2 separate regions of the Homo sapiens genome follow, and region 2 is linked to region 1. A link means that fine-mapping ties the variant in region 1 to the expression of a gene that starts in the linked region. Tissue or cell type: tibial artery. Region 1 holds a variant in brackets; the other region holds the start of a gene. All regions are shown on one strand. Distances are between the middles of the regions.

Region 1 (2,752 bases):
ATGCCATGACGCTCAGGTAATTTTTAAATTTTCTGTACAGATGGAGATCTCACCATATCGTCCAGGCTAGTCTCGAATTCCTGGGCTCAAGAGATCTTGCCTCAGCCTCCCACAGTGCTGGGATTACAAGTATGAGAGATCACACCCGGCCCACCATTACATTCTTTTTTTGAAATGGGGTCTCGCTCTGTCACCCAGGCTGGAGTGCAGTGGTGCGATCATAGCTCCCTGCAGCCTCGAACTTGCAGGCTTAAAGGATCCCACCGCAGCCTTCCAAGTAGCTGGGACTACAGGCTGTTTGCGCCACTGCACTCCAGCCTGAGTGACACAGTAAGACCCTGTCTTAAAAAAAAAAAAAAGGGCATCTTTGGGAGGCCAAAATGGGCAGATCCCCTGAGCTCAGAAGTTTGGGACCAGCCTGGGTAACATTGTGAGACCCCAACTCTACAAAAACATACAAAAATTAGCCAGGTATGATGGTGCACGCCCATAGCACCAGCTACTTGGAAGGCTGAGGTAGAAGACTGGTTTGAGCCCAGGAGGCCCAGGTTAGTAAGCCAAGATCGTGCCACTGCACTCCAGTCTGAATGACAGAGCCAGATCCTGTGTCTGAGACCCTCAACCCCAGCCTCACCGTCTTGTTCCCTTCCCCCCACACCGGTTTTGGTTCCTCCTACTTCCCCAATTCCTTCATCCAAATGCACAGCGAGGACCCTGGCTCCTCCCCAAAAGGCCTTGGCCCGGTCCTCCTTAGGGGGTGCAGGGGGTCCTGCTGGTCTGGACAGCAAGGCAGCCAGCGGGCAGGCAGCGCAGGCAGGAACAGATGTGGCAGCTCCCGGCATTTATTGATTGCAGCCCCCACAGAGCACACTGCCCTTCCCAGGTGGGGTGAAGCCCAGCGACCAGGGAGGCAGAGGATGCAGCATCCGCCCCGTCGGACTCCTTGTCGGGGAGAAGGCCCTAAGGAGGAACCGCGGCCCGCCTGGGCCATTCCCCCAGGGAGCCAAGCGGGGGGGCCCAGGTGCCCGAGGGACGCAGGCACAATCCCTGAAGACAGAGACCGCCTGCTGGTGAGTGGAGAGGCTTTGGCAAAACTAACTGTTAAAGCCACTGCAGGGCAGGCAGCGGTGCGCGGGACCTCGGTGGCCCTCGACCCTCACCCACAATGGCTCCAGAACCAC[C/T]CTGGGCCACTCCCTCCCAGGCACTCGCTTGTGGTCTGCGTTGCTTGTTCATCCCACCCAGCTGCGGGGTCTCGCGGGGAGTTGCAGCTGCCCGAGGACATGGAAGGTCTGGTTGCTCTCAGCAGACACGAAGTGCAGAGCTAGCACTTGGGTGAGCAACAGCCAGGCTGCACCCACACTCTGCCACCCAAGTCCTCGATGGAAAGTGCTGGAAGATGCTGCTTTGGGCATCGGGGGCAGGAGGCAGGGATAATACCCCTCCCCTGGCCCAGGAGAGGGGAGAAATCAGCCTCTGGTAGCCCCTGTTCCCCTGAGGAGCTGCCAGCGGGAGAGGGGCAAGGCCACGCAGTGCCCAGCCGGGAGAGCCTGGTAGCCAGAGCGGGGGTGGTGCAGCTACAGCTGAGAGGGGACGAGGCCAGGAGGAGCTCAGCCAGCAGGTGGGGGGACAGCAGGGGCCTGCTGCGGAGGACGGGTGGCCACGGCCAGGGAGGTCGTGGCCCCAGGAGCAGGTGCTGGGCTTGGGACTCTTTGGAAGAACCTAGCGTGTCTGGCCTGGCAGCCCAGCCATTCCCACGGCTGGTCAGGATGGCACTTTGATGCCAAAGTTTTTGCGTAGCTGTTCCAGAAACACAAAAGTGAGCACGGTGTGGGGGATGAGGCGGATGCCAGCTGGGACGAGGCCCTGGAGGGAGACAGGGAAAATGAGAGACACAGAGCCCGAAGGGGCCCGCTCCCCATTGCCCAAGCCGCCACTGCCGCCACCACTGCACCTTGTAAAAGGCCAGAGGCCCGAGCTTCGCTGTCTCCACGGCGCAGTGGAAAACGCCCTGCAGAAAACGCAGTGAAACAATCAAAAAGGCTGCTTCTCACCCAAAAGGCAACGAAAATCCCCTCCCAGGCACCAGCCAGGCACGGTGGCCTGGGCATTCTCAATGTGGGGTGTGGGTGTGGGTGTGGGTGTGAGCGGCGGCTGCTGGCTGGTAACAGGTGACCACAGGTCTGCAGGCACCAGCCAGGTCAACGGCCACCCTGCCTGCTCATGCGGTACAACCAGGGCCCGAGGGTGCAGCCCGGGGTCCAGTGGGCAGAGGGGGCTGTGAACAGAACCATGAGAATCAGGGATGCAGCACGGCAGCGTCAGGGAGAAGAAAAGGGACAGAGCTATGGGCTCTGCAAACGTGGAAGCCCCATGGAGTTGGCGGGGGCCCAAGACAGGAGACCCAGAGCACCTATGAGGCACAGACTGCCATGAACGGCACCACCTCTGTTAATCTGTGAAAGAAATGTTTTTGGCCGGGCACAGTGACTCACACCTGTAATCCCAGCACTTTGGGAGGCTGAGGCGGCAGATCACTTCAGGCCAGGAGTTCAAGACCAGCCTGGCGAACATGGCGAAACCTTGTCTCTACTAAAAATACAAAAATTAGCCAGGAGTGGTGGCACGTGCCTGTAATCCCAGCACTTTGGGAGGCCGAGGCAAGCGGATCACCTGAGGTCAGGAGTTCAAGACCAGCCTGGCCGACATGGTGAAACCCTGTCTCTACTAAAAATATGAAAAATTAGCCGGGCAT
Region 2 (2,500 bases), 36 kb after region 1:
CAACAAAGAACCCTATCACCCGTCCCTTGGAGTCCCCGTTCGCCCAGATGCTCCCGGTTTCAATGGGACCTTAGCTTGGGCAAGGGCTAGAGAGGCCTGCAGTGTAGACTCCAGGCCCCTTGCTCCAAGCCAAGTGCTTTGGAAATAAGGGCAGAACGGGGCTCCAAGGAGGACTCGCCAGCATACCTGTCATCATACCACATCACTGCTGTCTCCAACAACTGGCCCCTCTGGGGGGGCAGCTCCAGCTCTGCCCACATCGCCTTTCCCGGATACAGAAACGATCTAACAAGCCAAGCCACGTCCACTTTCTATACTGATTCAGTAGTTAACCTCTGGATTCATCCCTGAAGCACTGAACTACCTGTGTGGCTGAGATACTCAGTCTGCTTGCTGGTTCCCTTGGCAAGGAAGGTGTCTCACTTGAAGTCTCCTTGAAAACCCTACTTGACAAAAAGGCAAGCTTGGGCAGCCCATTCGACCACCCAAGCTCCTACCCCCAAACATTAGACGCATTTTCCACGTGCTGCTGGGCACGTGCACATCAACATTCGTTTCCCTCCCAAAACGCGTCAATTCCAGGAGGCTCAGATAGGATCAGCTTTCACCTCCAAAAACGTGAGAAAACGCCTTCCTAAACCATTAGGCACTTCCCGAAGCCAGTGTGGGAACAAAAGGTGGGTCTGGGACCCGCAGCCCCCAAGAGAGCTCGAAGGTCCCAGAGAGAACACTGCCGGCTCCACCCTTCGAGGCCCAGTGTTTTGGGTCAGAAGCCCAAGTGCGAGCCTAACATCCGACTGAGTCACCCACTTTCATGACTCAGGCCTTGTGGCCCACTCGGCCGGGTGCTCGTCGGTCAAGAGGAAATCGGCCGAATGCCCGGGCCCGCGGAGGAGCGAGGTCGCCGAGCGCCCCTGGCGCCCTGCGCGGACCCTCGCAGAGCCCCATTTGCCAACGCCCGACGGACGCCGACCCCACGGCCGCGCCGAGGGTCCAGGATCGGCGGCTCCGAACCCGGGAGGACAGCGGGCCGGGGAGAGGCGGGCAGGGCGGCCGGTCCGCGCCCCTCGGGCCCTCGGGGCCGCGCTGACTCAGCGCCGGGCGGAGGCTGCGGGCTGACCAAGGCCGAGCCGTCGGGTGGGGACGCGTTACCTAGGAGACGCTCGAAGGTGCCGCTGCCTCGCCCCATGGCGACCTCCAGCCCAAACCCGACGCCGCGGGCGCTCCCCTGCTACGAGCTGGCGCGCCCCCCGACTTCCGCTTCCGCCTTTTCCCTCCAGTGCGCGCACGCGCACGTCACCGCGCCGGCCCTAGAGCCGCGAGGAGGCGGGGTCTTCCGCTCTCCCGCTAACGCTGCGCGCTAATTGGACGCGCCCTTGGAACAATGAGCCCTAAGAACCAATGAGAAGTCCGAAGGTGAGAACTATCCAATGAGAGTGGCCGGTGGGCGGGCCTTGAGCCGCGGCGCCGAGCTACGGGTGCCGGGTGGAGCGAAGCACGGAATGTGTCTCCTGCTGGGGGCCACGGGCGTCGGGAAGACGCTGCTGGTGAAACGGCTGCAGGATATCCTTCCGCGCGGGGACGGGACCGGGGCGCGGGGGGCACCCGGAGTGGGGCGGGGACTCACCCTTTAGCTGCTCGGGTCCTTGACCGCTTCGCACAGGTGAGCTCCCGGGATGGGAAAGGCGACCTGGGGGAGCCGCCCCCGACACGGCCCACGGTAGGTGTCCGCCCCCGCGGGTGGAGTTGCGGGGGGTCAGTTCTGCGCTTGGCGAAGAGCTCCGGGCTCCTCTAAGTGCACGCCGAGGCGCAGCGGGTCAGGTCGTGACTTAAGGCCAGCCTTCGGGAGCGGGGGACGGCCCGAGCTGAGGATAATTGGCGCGGGATGAGGGGGCCTGCCGCCCTCCACGGGCACTTCCTCTCCCCTCGCAACGGCTTCCTGTGGCTGGTCGCCCCCACAGCGAGTCCAGCTACTGATGGGCGTCGGTCCCTGCTCGCCGTTCCTGCGTTAGGGAGAATGGGTCTGCGGGGTTCAGGCCACCGTGTAAGGTGTGGGCACGGTGCTCTTCAGGAGTTCACAACGGGACAGCGGTTGTATTGTTCTTTTTGCATCGTGGTTTTTCCTATAGGTGGGCACCAATCTTACTGACATCGTGGCACAGAGAAAGATCACCATCCGGGAGCTTGGGGGGTGCATGGGCCCCATCTGGTCCAGTTACTATGGAAACTGCCGTTCTCTCCTGGTGGGTTGTAATCCTATATGGGCTTCCTTTAGGGAAGTGTGTCTACATTTCTGTGACGTCCAGTCCCCAACCTTGCTGTGTGTAGAAAGGGGTTTGGGTTATTTAGTGACTATACTACTCATGGAAATAGGTCTTAGCTAGTGTTGCTTCCTGCTGGGCACCCTGTCTGGTTTCTGGTGCTTGCGCTCCCAGGCCCCCGGTAGGAGCTCACAGAGGGCTTGCTGAGGGCAGGGCTGCTGCTCCGCAGAGAACAGACT

Direction of the effects. Positions count from the first base shown, and alleles are read on the strand shown. Sizes are in standard deviations (SD) of each study's normalised expression.
As copies of T replace C in region 1, the expression in tibial artery of the gene that starts at base 1,245 in region 2 goes down (small effect, 0.11 SD a copy in GTEx).

The links. PIP is the estimated chance that this variant, and not a neighbour inherited with it, causes the effect.
Region 2: HGS starts here. The variant in region 1 is the best candidate, but not a certain one, in a credible set for the expression of HGS in tibial artery (GTEx, PIP 0.76).

What each region holds. Positions count from the first base shown.
Region 1 is chr17:81,719,087-81,721,838 of GRCh38, reverse strand. SLC25A10 (solute carrier family 25 member 10) reads right to left here. Exons shown (of 11, transcript NM_012140.5): 10 at 1,952-2,008; 11 at 827-1,863. The coding sequence ends at 1,762. Among named protein-coding and RNA genes, the nearest start is that of SLC25A10, 8.2 kb to the right of the region's middle. The variant C/T (reference allele first, on the strand shown) is at 1,182.
Region 2 is chr17:81,682,756-81,685,255 of GRCh38, reverse strand. HGS (hepatocyte growth factor-regulated tyrosine kinase substrate) reads right to left here and starts at 1,245. Exons shown (of 22, transcript NM_004712.5): 1 at 1,153-1,245. The coding sequence starts at 1,189. ARL16 (ARF like GTPase 16) reads left to right here and starts at 1,459. Exons shown (of 5, transcript NM_001040025.3): 1 at 1,459-1,563; 2 at 1,662-1,720; 3 at 2,130-2,243. The coding sequence starts at 1,503. RefSeq lists silencers at 1,015-1,114, 1,325-1,384, 1,595-1,674 and enhancers at 1,263-1,557, 1,775-1,994.